Linked DNA regions of Homo sapiens: all the other regions are linked to region 2. The links come from fine-mapping of genetic effects on plasma protein levels. A gene starts in region 2. Each other region holds a variant in brackets. All regions are shown on one strand. Distances are from middle to middle.

Region 1 (5,000 bases), 1.3 Mb before region 2:
CTTCCCCATAAAAATGCTAATGTACCAAAATAATCATATAGAGAGCCTTGTGACTTTCTTCAGATGGAAAGATAAAGCTACCTGGAATGGGAAGGTGGTAAATAAAATAATCTTTAATATGCATTTGCTTAACAGTCATCCTGGATAAGGCACAAGCTTCTTTAACTGCAACTAATGGGCACATTTACTCATGGATTGAAACTTCCAATGTTAATTATATTATATTATTTACAAAGAATTTATTTTTACAAATGGCATTTCATTCCAATTTAGTGTACGTTTGGCTCTTCATCGTTTTTATTACTCTGATTTAGAAAATCTCACTGCAGAGCAGATGGAGTTTTCAGCACATGTGGTTTTATATCACAGGCACTTAAAAACATAGCCACAACACAAAGCACTTCCACAATACTGAGATACAACGATTGTGTTTAGATTAATGTGTTATTGTAAAAAGCAAGCTGATTTTTTCCATTTTTAGTTTGTCAGTTCAGACCAGTAGGATTTCCTGAGGATGCTACTTGCAGCTCTGCAGGCCTGTGGTTGATTTTTTTTTTTTTTTCAATTTTCTGCATTTCACTGTCAAATTCCTTGAAAGAATAGTCTCTATTCATAACTTTCTCACTCCCCATTTACATGTCCATCCACTGCAGTCTTGGATTTGGCCCCACCAATTAACTGATTTTACTCCTGTCAAGGCCATCGATGATCTATGAGCAAATCCAACAAAAGCTTTGGAATCCTTCCCTTGTTTGACCTCTGGAGACTCAGCACTACTGATAACCCTGCCTTCCTGTGACTCCCATGCTGCAGCCCCATAGATGACACTGAGCAAGTGCTCAATAAATATTTGTTGAATCAATGATGAAATGAATGCAATTTCATGTCGCCAAAAGACATTAATGTGAAACATTAATGTGAAACAAACATGAAGGTGAAAATAGGCATTTTGCCCTGTTTTATTTCAACAAAAAAAGTGTAACAATCAGAATCTGCTGATAAGAATATTGCTTATCTCGTGAATTTTTCCGCACCTTTTCATTCTTGTCATTCTTGAATACCAACACAAGGCCCATGTCATCTATGAAGCACCTGACATTCCTCCATCCTATCAAACTTAGTTCTACTTATAATTCTATTTAGTATGTGAAATAAATCCTATTTATATTTATATTTACTATGCTCCAAATGGTTCCCAATACAATAGTTGTTTATTGTTTATCACTACACTAAGTTGGAAATACCCAAGACATGGAAACCCGTATTTCTCATCGTATTGCTCTTAGATAATGCCTGGCAGGTATATTTGCTCCACAGCTGTTGGATTAAACTTTAAGGAATAATCCCTTAAATATACAAGGTTCTAAAATATATCTGTAAATCACTTAAGCATATTAGTTCCATTATTCTATATGCTTAAATATTTGAAAGTGAGTCATTTTTTTTCCTATTTAATAGATTAAATGCTTTATGGAAATTTTCAAAGCTGTGAAGTGGGTAGCTGTAAACTTTCTTTTTAGTAACATTTTAAAAGTTTTTAAAGTAAAACTTTGATCTGATATCGTATTTAATTACATTGCTAGGTTAAATACAGCAATTTAAGTGAATAACATTATACGTGTTTTGTGCGAATTACATTTTAAATAATCTTCCTTTTTGAGCATTTTCTTATTTTTCTGACTTCGCTGTTTAAAATGCATTATACTTTATATTGCTTTACTTTCTTTAGGAACTAAACAATACTAAAAATAGAGACAAAGATTCTTAAAACTGACACTTTTAAGGACTCTATTTAGTGACTAGTTGGGGGCAGCAGCCACTCTTACAGATTGGCCTGGTCTTAAAAGATTAAGACATGCCTGTAAAGCTTACTGTAAAAATATTTTATTGTCTTTTATGTCACTCTTTCTCTCATCTTTTTTTTCTATGACATTTACAAAAGGTAAATTTCAATTTTAAAAAAGTTGAAATGTTACATGTTACTTTCTGTGTCTCCCATACATGCTAATTTAGATTGTAATTGACT[C/T]CTGTAAAGTAATAAAAAGGAAATCTCCACACCAGAGTATCACACACATAACGTTGAAATTACATGCATTCCCTAGGCAATATCATTGTGTTTCAGTGAGTGCATTAAAGGGGAAAAAAAAGGTCTGGAGCTTGGGAGCTCCTGGCACATTCCACAAGCAAGGTGATAGTGGGAGGGTAAGGTGCATGTAGGACTCTTGAAGCAGAGGTTGGGGGTAGCAGTCAAAATAGTGAGGGAAAATCAAAAACATCTGAATAGCTTACATCCCTCTGCCAAACCTTAACATTGAAGTCATGGGTAGGGTTCCTCCTGGAAATGCAGTGAGGATTAGAGTAAGTCCATGGACAGTAGGATGAGTCTTTGGCTGAGGAAACAGATCACTGAAGTCTGACAATTTAGGTCCCAAAACGTGTGTTGTGTCTTGGGGAACAGTGAAGGACATCCCCCTATAACAAGTAGAGTAGACTAGTGACTAAGCCCTGGCTTTAGGAACAAAAGACACACATTCAAATGTTGGCTCTCCCACTCATTAGCTCTGAGGCCATGTCTAAATCACTGATCCTCTCTGAGTCTTGGTTTCTTTTTTAAATTTTTTCTTTTGAGACAGGGTCTCGCTTCTGTTGCCCAGGCTGGAGTGCAGTGGCATGATCTTGGCTCACTGCAGCCTCAACTTCCTGGCTTAGGTGATCCTCCCACCTCAGCTTCCAGAGTAGGGGGGAACACAGGTATGTGCTACCCCACCACCCCACCCAGTTAAATTTTTTTTTTTTTTGAGACAGAGTCTTGCTCTGTCACCAGGCTGGAGTGCAGTGGCATGATCTTGGCTCTGCAACCTCCAACTCCCTGGTTCAAGCGATTTTCCTGCCTCAGCCTCCCGAGTAGCTGGGATTACAGGTACGCACCAGCATGCCCAGCTAATTTTTGTATTTTTAGTAGAGACGGGGTTTCACCATGTTGGCCAGGATGGTCTCAATCTCCTGACCTCATGATCCACCGGCCTTGGCCTCCCAAAATGCTGGGATTACAGGTATGAGCCACCACACCCAGCCTTTTTTTGTATTTTTAGTAGAGACAGGATTTTGCCATATTGCCCAGGCTGGTCTTGAAATCCTGGGCTCAAGTGATCTGCCCACCTCGCCCCCTCAAAGTGCTAGGATTGCTGGCATGAGCCACAGCACTGGGTGCGTCTTAGTTTCTTCATAAATGATTAGATGCACAAACATTTTGATGATTAAATCACATACACGTACAGCATTTCCTAGTTAACGGCAACATAGGAGCCCAAAGTATGGCAAAAACTATACTTTTTCCTTTCCCCTTTGGAATGCGTCAGACCTACAGCATCATCACAAAAGTTTGTATTACCCGTTTGTTCTGCTCTCCACAACCCCTACAAACAGTTTACTCTCAGACCGAATACATAGATTTTTATTCTTTAGTTAAGAAAATTACCGTATTTGTCAGGAAACGGTCTCTAATTTCTCTCCTTAAAATTTCCTTATAAATGTATGAAGCCTTTTCAATAGGACAGAGACCCAAGTCATCTTAATTCGGGACGGAGCAGCACAATAAGCATGGTCTACATTGAGTATACCCTCAGTTGACTGAAAACTTCATCGACGTTACAGACCACCTTTTATCACCAAGGGAGCACGTCAGTACGTGGTTCAATGCCCGCATTGCTGCTAATCTAGTCTTCTCTTCCCTGAAACCCACTGCTCCTTGTTAATGCTTGCTCACTATGTCTGCCACCACTACTTACTAGTGACCCAAACCAGAAGACACAGAATCATCCTTGACTTCTTATCATTCACCCCATCTGCTTAGCCACTAAGACCTATATATTTCATTGTCTCATCAATTTTAGAGTCTTTCCTCCTTTTTACTGCTTTAACCCTAGTTCCATTGCTCATTATCTCTTGATAGAACATAGAAGAAGCCTTACAGCCGCTCACCGTTTCTTTCCACTCTTAGACCCCAGGTTCCTGCTGTCACAAAAACAATCTGTTCATATGGAAGATCCAATCTTGTCACTCCCTTACTTGAAAACTTCTATTAGTTTTCCTATTAAATGGTAGGAAAATAATTGAAATTCCAAATCATTGATAGAGGTCACTATCCCTCGCTTCTTGCTACCTTCCTTTGTCTCAAATTTTATGGCCCAATTATATCAAGGAGACTTTGGTTCCCTAGGGACACACTTGTGGGTTTTTGCAAATTGTTACATCTGCTTAGATTTTTCCTTCCTAATTTCTTCTCATGCGTAACACTTGTTAACTGTTCAGGCTTGACTCAGATGCTCTCTCTCTCTTCTCTCTCTCTCTCTTTTTCTCTCTCTCCCTTGTTTTAAGAGGTAAGGATCTCACTCTGTTGCCTAAGCTGGAGTTCAGGGGCCTGGATCATAGCTCATTGCAGTCTTCAACTCCCGAGCTCAAGCAATCCTCTCTCATTAACAATCCTCTCACTTCAGCTGGGAACACAGGTGCATGCCATCACATCTGGCTAATTTTTAAAAATTTTTTAGTAGAAATGAAAACCTTGCTATTTTGTCTAGGCTGGTATGGAACTCCTGGCTTTGGATAATTCTCCCACCTTGGCCTCCCACAGCTCTGAGATTACAGGCTTGAGCTACTGTTGTTGGCCAGGGTTTCTCCTTTAGAAAAAATGCTTGCAAATCCCTAGAATGGTATCATTCCTTTGTTCTTCCATAGAATTCTGTGTTGATTAAGATTCAACTACTTACCACACTGCATTAACATGGTTTCTTCATCTGTCAGGGTGTCACACAGTACCAATAATATTTTGAAGAAAAAGGGCACGTCTTAGTCTCTGCACTTCAATTAGCTCCTGCTACCTAGACTGCCAGAACTAACCAGATTTTAAATGTGTTGTCCACCTGTTTATTAAATTCTGAGGGCCATCCCAGTCCCCTCCAGTAATGTATCTCTTTGAAATAGAAAAGCCAGATTTAGAT
Region 2 (5,248 bases):
AGTTTAACTGTTGAGAGAAGAAACAGTCAGCATTTACTATACTGATGGGGGAAAAGTTCTCTAGAGGTTATTACACTGAGCTTTGGGAGAAAAGTCTCTAGAGGTTTTTGAATTTCTAAAATGGAGCAATATGCAAGTTATTTATTTCCAGATCCTCAAAGTGGGTTATCATTACCTGCAGGCCAACCAGATTCCATGAGGGAGGGTTACTTAAAATTATCTGATAGTAAATTGATAGTAAATTTAAGAGTGAGGAATAAAATTAACTTTAAACAACCATGCTTGAAACTAAAATTCTAATAGTTCAAAGAGTATTTTGAGCTCCAATGTCCCACAGCTTCCCAAAACCCTCTCATCTTAGAGTTTTTCTTTAGATTGTTATTGCATTTTGTTCATAGGCTAATGCATTACCTAAATATAGATAGCCATTTTTAGTATAAATTCAAAAAGCCATAAATGTTTCATAATTGAGCACATAATTTGAACTAAGAGAGATTTTCCACTCATCCCTTTTCACTATTGCAAATTGCAAAATACTCAAGTAATTACTCCCTTAATAGTTCAGTGCTTGCGACTATATATATTTTATGAACATCACAAGCATTTTTTTGCTCCCCAGAGCAATATTGGGAATGGGGTGCACAAAAGAATTTAACTTGTACAATTAACCAAATTACCCAGAGCTTTGATTCAAGATTCCTTCATTAAGCCATTAATATAATACATTGTTAAGTGGTGGGTTGTCCAATTTTTATGATACTTTTCATTTCAACTCAATGGCTGCAGTTAGAAGGAAAAAACAGCATCTGCAAGATCAGCAAGATGATGTAAAACCTCTACACTAGAAACATTTTTTTTTCTGTTCCACAGTTTGTTTGTGGGCAGCCAATGCCAGAGCACTAATAAAGGAAGTGATTTGAAGTCTCTGAAAGTAGTAGTCATTTATGCTTACTCAATAAAGAAAAGGGAAAATAAATGCTTGATTCCTGTGACCTCAGACTCTTAAACAGAAAGCCACTGGTTTTGTTATAGCATTCTAGACATACTTAGCAGTAGGCAGCCAGTTTGTAACTCTATCCCACTTTAGGCTTCAATACATATTTCCCACTAGAGCTTATATATCCCAATGTAGAGTGTCATGTATTTACTATTTTGGCTTTGTTCAGTGATATGCTTAGATAATTGATGTATGTGGGAAACTGATACACAGAGGAAAACTATACCAAAAGCTCAACATTTTTTATTTCTAAACTTAGATACAGCACAGAAAATCTAATGCTGAAAAAGATTCTCATATCTGTTATTAGAGGTGGTGTAAATTATCTGAATATGAGTTCTGCATGATTTCAGTTAACTCCCTATGTTTATGTATGATGGGAATCTAATTATGCATCATTTAATATACCCTGGAAACCCCATTGCTTTTAAAAGTCACTGCTAATAAATAGAGGAACATGTTTAGTTTATGGTTTATCTATCACTGAAACACTCTGGCAAACGGTAGGTAAATTCATGAAGAAGAGACATTGTTGAAAATTATATTCCTTTTGTAATTACAGTCTATGCAATATTATTAAAGGCCTGAGACATAAACCAAAACATAATATAAATCATAAAAAGTCAGGCTTATCAGGAATAGTAGCAAAAGGTATGCACTTGTATGTTAATGAGAGATTGCAGTAACTAAAGATGCCCTGTCAGGATATCACGTTTTTTGTTTTAGTTTTTTTTTTTTTTTCATAAAAGAGTTTCAGACGAATCCATCACTTTCCCTCAAGATGCAAAATATCCACATAGATAATAATACAATTCAAGTAAATGGCAAAATATAGTAAACTTTGATTGGAAGTCTGGTCGTTTATAAGCCTTCTTGGAAATAAGAGCATCCCGAATAAAAACAAAGAGAATGGTATAAGCATGACTTGAAACTAAAACAGAAGAGTGAAATTGTGAGTTTGTTCTTTACCTTTAACCATGTGCTGTCAGAAAAGCCTCAAATTTTAAACAACACCTGCATTGAAGAGTGTCTCCAATCATCTCACTGGTTTTGAGTTACATGGTGATATAAATAAAGACATGTGATTTTATACTCTCTCTCTAGTCTTTCATCCTCTCTCACTATAATCACTTTAGTATAACCACCAGTTCAATGCTCACAATGAAGGATGAGCTTTTTTTAAAAAAGGATAAGAGATCCAAAATTCATATGACAATGAAATCCTGTTATCAGATTTGTAGTCAATTTGATGCTATTTATTTCTAGCAGTTTGCAAATTCTTCCCCAGTTCTATCAAGAAAATTGGCATGGACTGGAAACTCTTCTAGACACTCACAAAACTTTCTTCTGGAAATATACCTCTGATAGATTCTCAGTAAAAAAAAAAAAAGTCATGAAGATGAAAGAAGTGTTCAGTGGAAACTATTCTTTCCAGTCTACACACACATGCAGAGCCAAATGCTTTATTGTGACTCAACCTTCAATTCAAACTCAAATCAAGTAGGTATGTCCACTGTCAGTACCCCGATATATCAATGCCCATGTGTTAGGTAGATGAATGAAGACACATGTGCAGAAGCAGAGGGAAAAACCAGATCCTACCTTGATTGTTTTTGAGGGTTGACACTTGATGTGATGGGACACGCTGGCAGTTTGGTTCATGTTTCAGGACCCTGGACAGTGCACAATCCCAGGCGGAGTTCCAGAATGAACTAGAGATCAAGTCTCCTCTATTGGACTTCAGTAGGGGCTGCTGCTGTTGCTGCTGCCGCTGCTACTGCTGTTGCTTCTGCTGCTTCTGTTTCTGCTGCTTCCTCACTCCGGAGGCTGAAACGCTATCAGATTGGAGGAATCTGTATCTCACTTAGCCCTAAATAGAGCATTTACTTGGTTCATCAGTCTCAAAGCTCTTGGCAATATGCAATAGAAAGCCAAAAACGGTTTAAATTCACTTGCAGTGTACCTTTTCAGTATGGAGATGTGACAGCTCCACAGTACAGCCAATGATCCTGGCTCTCATTCCCCTTTCAAAGGGACGAAAACCAGAAAACATACAGAGATCAATTGCAGTCCTGCAGTTTAAAGGGGCACTCTCAACTCCTCTGTCTCTCCAGATTATAGTTTTTCCAGTGCAAAATATTTCTCTCTCTCTCTCTCCCTCTCCCCACCCCTAACCCAGTTTAAAAAAAAATCATAACATCCTCATTCTGTTACTAAATTTTATTCCTTCCTGGGTACTTCTTGCAATCAAAACACAAGTAAATGCTGTGGAAAAAAAAAAAAAAAGACTGTTGGCAGTTTCAGAATTTGGGGGTTTTATATCTATAGGTTGAAGGACTGATATTCCCTATGGATATTTTTAAAATTTAGCCATAACAGCCAGCCAAGAGACTGTCCTTTCTGTAAGGTGGCAGAAAGCTTAAGGTATATTTAAAAAGTTTTCAAATACAATAGTTATTGTAGTTTTTGGATATCGCACCAAAGCTAGACAATGTTTTTATTTTCAACCTTTATTTTTGACCATTGCTTTCCTTGAAGCCGTATTTTTTGAATGCCTGGGACAAACTGGTAGTTAGCTCATGCCAGTCTAACTCCCCAAATGGTCACCTCTCTGTCCCTAATGTCATTTTAGGCAAAATAAATTATAAATATTTGTAAATTAAGTTTTCCGAGTCACCAGTCCCCATTGTCACATCAACACTAACTAGAATAAATATATCCTGGTTGGAAATAAGATCCAGTAGTCTTGAGTAAATGCAGGACACTCTTTTCCAACTTTTGTTGCAAAGTGTTTGATGTTGAAAACCAACAGTATTTATTCATCAGAAATGTATCCTACTAATGAAATGCTAGGTTTATAAGATTGAACTAACGAACTACATTCAGGAGGCTTTTATGAACAGCCTAAAATATTACAGATAAACTTTAATGTGAAATGAAATAAATTAATGTTTGGTGAAATTAATTTATACATAATTATAAACACATATTTTCTCTTGTAAAACAGAAAAGGGATCTAAACATTCTGACAAAGTAGTCTGCACATGTTTGAGGATGGCTAAGTTTCAGAAGGTTATAGTTCTGAGTAGCAAAGTGGAGGTAAGGATGTGACAGAAGTAAGATCAGACTGTTTGCAGCCACAAAAGTTAATGGCAAGAGTATTGGAGAAATCAGGAGAATCATGGGAAAAGAGATGGAGCCAATAAGAACCAGGCAAAAGGCTGTGTGCAAGAATCTGGTGTAGCAATATCCAGGCATCATATTGAGCACAACCAGAGGCAGCCATAGGGCCAACAAATCTCATGATTTGAAGTTTACAATTCTAAATCACAAATGTGACTGGAATTTGTGGCTTATCTTGTATTTTGCTTGAATAGCATTGCTTTGAATAATTCATAAATCACAAAAAGAGTATATTAAAAATGTTTAAACATTTTGTATTCAACAATAATGAAAACAACACAGAAAATTTGCAGTATGCAGCTAAATCAATATTTAAAGGAAAATGTATATAATTAAGTACCTATACCAGAAATGCAGAAAAGCATAAAATTAATAATTAATAAGCTAATTATTCATATCAAAGAGTTGGAAAAAGAATGGCAAAATAAACTCAAATAAATTATAGGGGGGAAACAATAAAGAGAAGAGAAGAAAGTAATGAAGTAAAAAACATACAAAATACTCAATGAAAAAACCTATGAACATTTCATCAGGTGGTTTACAGTTTGATAATCTCTGAATAAATGAATGTTCTATACCAGTAGAATTGGCTTAATTCCTTTCTTAGATAGCACTTTGTACTAGGTATCTAAGAAACTTCCAAACTAAATTATCTGGGGAGCCCAGGGAGGGAGAGCAGTCCAAGAGTTCAGAGTATCCCATCCCCATCAAAGAACTGTACAGGATGGAAGGAGCCACTAGTACTTCAAGGAACCCTCTCCAGGCACATTGATAGAGACAGCATTTATATGCCTACCACAAAGAGGGTATGAGTTGCTGGATTTCTACAACTATAATCACATGAGACTTCACCCCTTTTCTACAATTTTTCAAAAAGGTTCTACCCCCACCTGGATGGCAGCAGGATCCAAGAAAGATATTGACACTACCATTTATAGGTAGGTGGCCAGAATCCACCTAAAATCTTTTCCCAAAGTTGCATTTTGAAAATAGAGAAAAATCACAGTAAGAGAAAAGAGTGCCTCGTATACACCATATGCTCCCTTTCCAGGCTCCACATTATATCAA
Region 3 (5,000 bases), 790 kb before region 2:
ACAAAATGAAAATAAAGTAGGAAGTCCTAGCTAAATCAATCAGACAAGAGAAAGAACTGAAGGGCATTCAACTTGGAAAGAAAAAAGTCAAATCATCTTTGCAGATGATATAATCTTATATTTGGAAAAACCTAAAGACTCCACCAAGGACTATTCAAACTAATAAACAAATTCAGTAAAGCTGCAAGACATAAAATCAACATTAAAATAGCCATTTCTATATGCCCAGAATAAACAATCTGAAAAAGAAATCAAGAAAGTAATCCCATTTACAATAGCCGGAAATAAAATAAAATAGCTAGGAAGTAACAACAACAACAAAAAGAACAAACAATTTCTACAATAAAAACTGTAAAACATTGATAAAAGAAACTGAAGGAGACCCAAGAAAAATACAAAGATATTCCGTGTTCATGGGCTCGAAGAATCAATATTGTTAAAATGTCCACACTACTCAAAGGAATCTGGAGATTCAGTGCAATTCCTATCAAAATACGAATGCCATTCTTCACAGAAATAGGAAATACAATCCTAAAATTTACGTGGAATCACAAAAGACCCAGAATAGCCAAAGCTATCCTAAGCCAAAAAAAAAAAAGAAAGAAAAGAAAAGAAAAAATGGAGAAATTACATTACCAGACTTCAAATTATACTTCAGAGCTATAGTGAACAAACAACATGCTACTGGCATAAAAAGAAACATAGACCAATAGAATAGAATAGAATAGAATAGAATAGAATAGAATAGAATAGAATAGAATAGAATAGAATAGGAGAACTCAGAAACAAATTTATACATATACAGTGAATTCATTTTCGACAAAGGTCCTAAGAACAATCTCTTCAATAAATGATGATGGAGAAACTGGATATCCACATGCAGAATAAGACTAGATCTGTATATAAAAATCAAATAAACATGGATAAAAGACTAAAATCTAAGACCTCAAACTATGAAACTACTGTACAAAAACAAGAAACAAAAACCACTGAGGAATCAGGACATTGTAGTTGGCAAAGATTTCTTGAGTAATAATCAACAAGCATGCGCAACGAAAGCAAAGATGGACAAATGGAATCATATCAAGTTAAAAAGCTTCTGCACAGCAAAGGAAACAATCAACAAAGTGAAGAGACAACCTACAGAATGGGGGAACAGATTTTCAGACTATCCATCTGATAAGAGATTAATAACCAGATTACATAAGGAGCTCAAACAACTATATAGGGAAAAAGTCTAATAATGCAATTAAAAATGGGCGAAGATCTAATAGACACCTCTTAAAAGAAGACTACAAATGGCAAACAGGTGTATGAATAGATGCTCAACATCACTGATCATCAGAGATATGCAAATCAAAGCTACAATGAGATATCATCACATCCCAGTTAAAATGGCTTTTATTCAAAAGACAGGCAGTAATAAGTGCTGGCAAGGATATTTAGAAAAGGGGACCCTTGTACACTGTTGGTGGGAATGTAAATTAGTACAAGCACTATGGCAAACAGTTGGAGGTTCCTTAAAAGACTAAAAATAGAGCTATTATAAGATCCAGCAACCCCACCACCAAGTATACACCCAAAAGAAAGGAAATCAGTGTATCACAGGGATACCTGCACTTCTATGTTTATTGCAGCCCTATTCAAAATAGCCAAAATTTGGAAGCAACCTAAGTGTCCATCAACAGATGAGTGGATGAAGAAATTGTTGTACTTATACACAATGGAATACTATCCAGCCATATAAAAGTATGAGATCCTGTCATTTGCAACAACATGGATGGAACAGGAGGTCATTATGTTAAGTGGAATAAGTGTGGTGCAGAAAGACAAACTTCACATGTTCTTACTTATTTGTGGAAACTAAATTTTTTAAAAAAAAATTGAGCTTACAGAGATAGAGAGTAGAATGATGGTTACCAGAGGCTGGGAATGGTAGTGTGGTAGTGGCTGGAGGGGGGATTGAAGCGGGTTTTGTTAGTGGGTACAAAAATATAGTTAGATAGGGTGAATAAGATCTATATTTGATAGCAAAACAGGGTAACTACAGTAACAATAATCTATTCTATATTTTAAAATAACTAAAAGAGTATAATTTTATAGTCTGTAACACAAAGAAAGGGTAAATGCTTAAGGTGCTGGACACCCCATTTACCCTGATATGACTGGTATGCATTGTATTCCTGTATCAAGCATCTCCTGTACCCCATGTATAGGGCCGGGTGCAGTGGCTCACACCTGTAGTCCCAGTACTTTGGTAGGCCAAGACACACAGACCACTTGAGCCCAGTAGTTTAACACCAGTCTGTCAATTTTGCAAAACCCCATGTCAACAACAACAACAAAAAATATATGTATAAATACACAAAAAAATCAGCAAGGCATAATAGTGCACACCTGTAGTCCCAACCACTCAGGAGGCCGTAGCAGGAGAATTGGTTGAGTCCAGGGTGGTCCAGGCTGCAGAGAGCCACGATCACACTACTGCACTCTAGCCTGGGTGACAGACTACCACCCTGTCTCCAAAAAAAAAAAAAAGGAAAAAAAAGAAATCGGATGTATCTCATAAATATATACAACTATTATGTACCCACAAAATTAATATAAATAAATAATTAATTTTGAAAAAAGAGAATAAAAAGAAAGCATAAAATGGCTGAACAAACTATGGCATATCCATATAATGGGATACTATTCTGCATTAAAAGAAAACAGAGACTGATACACACACCACAGCATGCACGAATCTCAAATGCATTAGATGAACTTTGGAAACCAATCCTGAAAGGCTACATATTGTCTGATTTTATTTATATAACAATCTGCTAAAGCAAAACTATCTGAACAAAAAACATATTGGCGCCTACCAAAGAGTGAGAGTCAAGGAAAGGTGACTAAAGTGGGGCAAGAGGGAGTTTGGGCTAACTATTCTGTATCCTAATAGTGGCAGCAGATATATATAGCTGCCAAAACTCAGAACTGTTCACTAAGAAGGATGAACTTCACTGTATGCAAATTACATTTCAATGAAGTTGACAACAGAAAAAAGAAAAAGAGAGTAAAAGAAAGTTTAAATTTCAA[C/T]TGGAAGAATCAGTTTCTTTACTGAAAGATGAAGACTATTCATACATGATTTAATGTACTCTGAAAATGGACCTCACTATGAGAAAAAAATTATTGCTAAAATTAGTAGAGTCTGTAAGTCCCTAGAATCTCCCATATTCACATAATTGTCTTTTCAGAACATTTCATTTTATGTACCTTGAGAGGGAAGGATACATGCAATTTGAATAAGACTAAGCAACAATTTAAAATCAAATCTTGAGAAGATTGGTCCCACGCAAATATCTTGATGTTAGGTTGATGAAAGATGCAATATCTGTCTTTATTTTTAGCCTAAGAGAACAACCTACAAACATAGCTATTTATATGGAATTTTTAGATTTTAATACAAAAATGAGATTTGTTTGATGTCTGTACTCAATAAATGTGCCTTGGTTCAGTGATTTCTGTGTTTTGTTTTGTTTTACTTGAAATCTGTAGTTCTTCCGAAATGAATGCAACCATATGCCTCATGGAAATCTTCATTTATTACAATTGGTTATACAAATGTAAGTCCCTTAACAACACGCAAAATCTGAGATCCAAACAAGTAATCTGAAACAAGAAACTTTGCTCTGAAATCAATTTTCTCCATCCACATATTTAATTAAATTGTGCTTCCTCTGACTACTGCTGGAAATACCAAATTGATGTAACTATAGTAAGTAGTCAAAATAAACATTTTACTAAACACTGTTATACATAGAAGTGCTCAATAAAGTGTCATTTTTAAAGTATTAAGTATTTCATAGCTGAATAAGATTACCTGACACAATATGACATTACAGTTCAAAGATTTTGTTCACGGCTAAGTTTTACTTGACTATGTGGATAACTGACAGTGTGCTTACAAATATTAAATTCAAAAATATGAGTTTACTATGTCTCAAATGAATTTCATGGAAACATGGAATAAAGCCACATTATGACTAAGTGGCAACTTTTCTGACCAAGAATGGAAGCAGATCTTATCGCTTCTTTTTCTCAAAGCATCTTTGTAGAAATATATCAGCAGCCAAAAATGAGTTCGGAATACATTTACTCACACGTACAACTCATTAGCACATAATATCTAGAACTATAGGTAATTAAGTTTCTTAATAAAGAACATATCAAACAGAGCATGATAAACTGAACTGTAATAGAAGATAATCCCTAGACAGTCGAGCTCACCCACTATGAGAATGTTGCCAGACATATCATCATGACAACAAAATCTGCAATCCAGACTAATGAGAACAGCATTCTAAGTGACAAGCATTTAGCATGTGCAGCCTGTATGTTAAAGTATAAGTAAAATTGAATTTAAGTTCTGTTGACAACTTCTGATAACAGCTAACATTACTGTCCAAAAAATATTTAAAAATTAGAGTTTTGATGGAAATGATACTGCTAGTGAGTAATAAAAGGTAGCGCCAAACTGAGTGGGGTAAACAGTGCAAAATGAGAGGAGAAAAGCCTTTTGATCCAGACACAAAACCCCGGGTCCATCTTGGTTCTCTTCTCCTCTACCCTTTGCCATATACAATAAACTTTTTCTTCTCAATTGAAAAAAAAAATCTTTTTCAATTTTTTTCCCACAAAAATCAATATATGCTGATTAAAGTAAAACAAAAATACAAATAAAGAAAACTAGCACAAAGAATACCTATAATTATAACAGAGAAATAATTACTATTAATACTTGATTTATTATGTTCATCTCTATTCATTCATGTATGTCCCTAGGAAACTTCATTGATACCCATAGTTCTAATTCCTAACTACCCATAGATGATTGGCAAATCTATCCCCAGCTCAGTAAACTTCCCTGAGTTCCAGATATACATGCATACACACACACACACACACGCACACACACACACACACATTCATGCGGTTTGACTTCAATATATAAGTGT
Region 4 (5,000 bases), 870 kb before region 2:
ACTTCAGGTTAAATATTTTGTCCCTTTCCGTTTGTCATAACTAAAATTGAAGTCACAGAAGATGTATATTCCTGAGAGGTTTTATACCTTTTCTGGGGAACATTCTTTATATAACACTGCTTGTCATGGTTTCTGGTGGTCAATAAGTACTGAATAATAGCAATCATCAAAGGAATAGCAGCAGCAGTGCTAGGCAGCATGCTAAATAAACTCTTGAACTACATTATCTCATTTTACCTCCATAATAACACTGCAATGTTGGAACTAAATATTATACCCATCATGCAGATGAGTAAAGTGAGAGAGAAGGTTAAATAACTTGCCAAATTGCACAAAACTACTGTATTACAGAGGCAGAACTCAAACTCAGGTATGTCACGCTTGTTCTTGCTTTAACAAATGAATAAGTGCAGGACAAAATGAACTCAATTATGGTTCATCACTGTGGTTTTATACTGGGAAAAATTGAAAAGGGTTGAGCAGAAGTTTAACTTAGTGAGTGCCTCACTCTATGTGGTCTTTGTTGTATCAAACTCTCAAGGACACCAAAATATCACTATGGCCTCAATGAGTAACAAGAAAACCTGAGAAAGTGAATCACTGGGCCAAGGATGCTAGAACCAGGATGAAAGAAAAAGAGTTCAAGAGAAATACACAGGGATTATGACATGAATACCTCCATCTGGCTAATAGCCATCAATAGAAGGCAGCAATGTCGACTCATTCTTTTTTTATAATTATGTTAAACTTCTTGTGTTTAAGTGAAACACCATGCTGAAACTCATCTTCCTGTAACAATGATTCTTGGCATTATGCAGCAACTTAGAGCCATCACATTGCTCAATGACATTGTACTGCAGATGTACAAATGAGGCAGTTAAGAAAAGGTTCCTGGGGAGAATGCCGGATAAGCCAACTTTTACCAGGGAATTTTTTCTTTCTTCCTTTCCAATTACCTTTCTCTCCTCCTTCCTCCCTAGTAGCTCCCTTAATTTCTTTCTCAACCTCTCCACATGTTAACTAACATCTAAAAACTGCATTTTTGGCAGTTTATTTATTTCAATGTCAGTATTTTTCAAAGATGGTATATCTCACGAAGTGTCTCACTGGAACAATTGATACTGCCATTTGTATAATTAGTCACCAAAATTATTTGACTAAATGACTCTGAAAAACAGTTATTGTTAATCATATTTTGTACATCAGGAAATAAGTTCAATGTGTTTAAGGGGCTCATAAAATAACAAAACTAAGACAAACCTGAAGTGGAAATAAATAGCATTCAACAACAGGCTATAATTTAAAAATATCAGTTGATTTTTGGATTCATTCAATCCTATCCCAGAAATGACTATTTTTCATAACACTGTGTCATATGTGGGTGTTTGGTCTTTGAGAAAAACAGTTGGGTGGGTGGGTTGCAGCAACTGCTAAATGTATCTGGAAGACAACTGAAGGAGTTTAAAAGTGATCCCTTTATCTCTGCCTTCCTTATTAGTACCTACTAAAGAGTAATGAATCTCCTGGGTATTGAAATAGTCCCCAGAAAGAAGCACAATGATAATTTCCATATTAGTATTAAACTCTTTAATCTGAAGAACACAGTCCAAAAATCATTGCAGGGGCAATTTGCAAAGTTTCTTTAGATAGGGTAGAAACTTAGAATGTAAAAACTTTAGGAAAGAAAGGAAAAGAAGACACAAGAAATAGGTGTCCAAATTTAGAGGCTTAGATCACTCTCTTTCGATCTGATCTTTTTCCATCAAATCCTGTCTTTCCATTTCCATACAGTTGGGTTATCATCTATATATAGAAACTTCCAGATGCCACTCCCTCATCTTCAACCCACAATAAAAGTCAAATGTCTTCTGCATTTATCAAACTAACACATAGTAAGTCTGTAAGTGGCAATGGAGACCAAAAATCTCCTTGGCATTCTCAACTTACATATTTTACATTTTCAGCTTCCCCAAAATATCCTGCATGATATTTGAACTGCAGAATTACTGTGCCATTTGCAAAATGTCTGATTATGCTTTTTTTCCAAATTCCAACCCATGCTAATGTGCCCTAAGATACCACATATTGCTACCCTCTTAAGGCATTTGAATGCGAAATTATCATCCACAATACCATCCATCATAAGAGAGGAATAAAGACAGATTACCTGGGGTTAAGAGGATGACTGACATAGTGATGAGTGAGCATACAACTAAAATCACCAGCAGAGCAATAGCAATTCCCTTCCAGTTTCTCTGTGGAGGGCTGTTACTTCCCAGTTCCTACCGAGATAGAAAAAAAAGTTTTGTAATTATTCATGCTCCAAGAGAAATGTATTCATAAAGGAATGATTCAGTGCATGGCACAATCACAGTTTGAAAGCTGATTAGAATCCATTTCCTCTTCAGTAGTTCATTTAATTATTCAAAAGTGCACATATTATAAATGGCTATCTTTTGGGGGACAATCTGCTCTCTCTGTGAGATAAACCAGCAGCGTTTTATGCTTGCTGTCCAAAATGTAGATGGTGTAAAAATGCATTGACTATAAACACCAGGATGATAGCCAAAATACTCTGCAAAATAATTATTGAAATAGAGCGAGTCCATTTACATGTATTCTTGCTACAATGGAACCTACAATAAAGATGTAAATGTAAATGTTCTTGAAGCACTACG[G/A]GCTACTTTCTAACTGGATGGGGCAAAGACTAGAAATGGGAAAATCATTCAAAATGTCCCTCACTGCAGAGCAGCGCACATTTGTTAACCAAACAGGTCTTTTTTAAACAGTTCTCCCACCACTCATAAAAAAAAAAAAAAAAAAAAAACAGGATTTAGTTAACTAAATTAAATGAGTCCTTCTATACCAGTGGTTAATGACACTGTCTTGCTGGGCAACATGCATGATATTGGAAAAAGGTATGGTTGATGGGGAAAATAAACTTGTACATCTCTCACGATGCATGTGGTAAAGCTATTCATTCCTCCAATGATCTGTGCTCTCCTGTGTTGACTAGATATGTGTGGGCATAATTCACCAAAGCAAAGCACAGACCACAATGATTTGAAATGAAAGTCAGCTTTTTTTGCAATACAGTTTATAAAACACTGAGCTTCTCATTTTTTTCTTCCTACTCCATTTCCCAACTGCTTTTCATCCTTTCTCAATACAGCCTCTTTATTTAGAAATAGCTAACAGATTTGGTGATAAATGAAACAAAATATGAAGATATCCAGCTCACTACATGTGCACAAATCACACCAGAAGCCGTAGAGCCGCTTTGTTGTCAACAAATATAAACAGAATAGAAAACATTTAATAAATTTGTACATGAGTTCCTGTGACTCACAGATTAAAACATTGATGTCAATATTCATATAGTTATTTTGGTATTGAATTGTGCCATAAACCCGGCAGATTTAAAGAACTAGACTCTAAATAAATACAAGAAGAAACCATGCATAGGAGGCATTTTGTTGTTTGTTGTTTCCCTTCTCAGATAAATCGCTCTAAGTTAGTCTTTCATTCTGATAAACCAAATCCAGGAGAGATCAATTCCACTTTTTCTTAAATGACTTGCTCCACACCTCTTTTTCAAATAATGCTTATTATCCAACACTTCTATTCCTCTTGCACTTTAGGATTCTCATTCATATTTTCCACGTAAATCAATACAGTGGGTCCCCCAAATTATCAGCTTTAGAGAAGTGATATAAAGACAGTCAATAGTTGCCTTGTGACCATAAACCCTTATCTGGAATGCAACGTTCCTGCAAGTTTCTAGGTGAGTTTCTTTGTTAGAATGTGTGTGCTGTGATGATTGCTGATTCTCTATAATGATGCCCTACTTCAAGGCTACTCAGAAGGTAGAGTGACAGAACGAGAGAGGCTGCTGCTGTAAATCAAAACCTACAGTGGTCTGAAAGTTGGGAAATACTCATCTCAAGAACTGAGACAGTGAAAAAAAGGGCAGTAACCAACAGCGAATGGGTATCTGGGCCAAGAACCATAAATACTTTCCTATTTATTAACTCTAACAGAAGCAAGCACATATTATTGTTTCACAATGTAAGAACAGGAAAAAGAATAGAAATGTAGCAATTATAACTGACTTTTCAATTCAGTAAGAGAATCAAGAAAAAATTATAAACTGAAATTTACTGATTATGATCTTGATATGCTGTCACTCCAACTCATGACAAACCATTTGAGAAATGACTTTTGACTGTGTTTTTCAGTTTGTGAATATGATAAAACCATGTAATGTCTACCAGACATAGTCTAACAAAGAGTAATAATAGCTTATATATATTATTATGTGTCTGGTATTGAAATATTTTAGATTTGCAATCTCACATAATCCTCAAAATAATCTGGTAAGATTAGTGTCATCTTCACAAATTTGCAGATAAGAAAACGGGATTTGAAGAGATTAGTAACATATCCTTTTATCACTAATAAGTAGGAGAGCTGGAGTTCTAGTTCATAAAATCTGATTATAAAGATCACACTTAACCACTATAATGCCACTTGTAAAGATAAATATTTCTAGAACAAGTACATTAAAGAATCAATAAATCAATAAGTTATTTGGACCCATACATAACTGTACATCAATACTTTTTATTTGGGAAAATTCACAGTAATATGTGGAATTCAGTAATGCTATCCTGAAGTCAGTAATGTTTGCAAATAAATGTATATTTTCCAAGTCACAGCTGGCTACGGAAGTCCACCATTTAAAAAGTGGTAAAACAAATTTGAGCGAGACATATTTTTCTGTTCATAAAGTGATGCACATAAGAATGTGTGGTTCCTCTGAAATGACTCATCAATGCTCAAGGCATATACAAGTCCCTATTTGAGAACTGCTGACTTAATGAATGTAATATAATTCTCCCCTTTCCATCCACCTTATATTCTATTACCATTACATTTCTAAAGCATGGTGTTACTTACGTTACTTTTTTTCTCCAAAGTTCTTTAACATCCCTACACTG

Which allele goes with the higher level. Alleles are on the strand shown, and positions count from the first base shown. The strength of an association depends on the size of the effect and on how common the allele is.
For the plasma level of the protein whose gene starts at base 2,797 in region 2, allele C in region 1 goes with a lower level than allele T (moderate association).
In carriers of allele T in region 3, the plasma level of the protein whose gene starts at base 2,797 in region 2 tends to be higher than with C alone (weak association).
For the plasma level of the protein whose gene starts at base 2,797 in region 2, allele A in region 4 goes with a higher level than allele G (moderate association).

What was found. A credible set is the group of variants that fine-mapping cannot tell apart. PIP is the posterior inclusion probability: the model's chance that the variant is causal. Protein levels are from antibody-based Olink assays in UK Biobank. Linkage for the fine-mapping came from a reference panel and not from the study's own genotypes, which makes the PIPs less certain.
Region 1: its variant is the best candidate, but not a certain one, in a credible set for the plasma level of the DPP10 protein (UK Biobank, PIP 0.61).
Region 3: its variant is the best candidate, but not a certain one, in a credible set for the plasma level of the DPP10 protein (UK Biobank, PIP 0.81).
Region 4: its variant is the best candidate, but not a certain one, in a credible set for the plasma level of the DPP10 protein (UK Biobank, PIP 0.73).

Annotation. Positions count from the first base shown.
Region 1 is chr2:115,729,153-115,734,152 of GRCh38, reverse strand. All of the region lies in intron 8 of DPP10 (dipeptidyl peptidase like 10), which reads right to left. Among named protein-coding and RNA genes, the nearest start is that of DPP10-AS1, 570 kb to the right of the region's middle. The variant C/T (reference allele first, on the strand shown) is at 2,027.
Region 2 is chr2:114,440,190-114,445,437 of GRCh38, reverse strand. It overlaps DPP10 (dipeptidyl peptidase like 10), which reads right to left and starts at 2,797. Exons shown (of 26, transcript NM_020868.6): 1 at 2,600-2,797. The coding sequence starts at 2,659.
Region 3 is chr2:115,225,463-115,230,462 of GRCh38, reverse strand. The region is part of intron 1 of DPP10 (dipeptidyl peptidase like 10); the gene reads right to left. Among named protein-coding and RNA genes, the nearest start is that of DPP10-AS1, 67 kb to the right of the region's middle. The variant C/T (reference allele first, on the strand shown) is at 3,082.
Region 4 is chr2:115,306,521-115,311,520 of GRCh38, reverse strand. It overlaps DPP10 (dipeptidyl peptidase like 10), which reads right to left. Exons shown (of 26, transcript NM_020868.6): 2 at 2,168-2,282. Among named protein-coding and RNA genes, the nearest start is that of DPP10-AS1, 150 kb to the right of the region's middle. The variant G/A (reference allele first, on the strand shown) is at 2,679.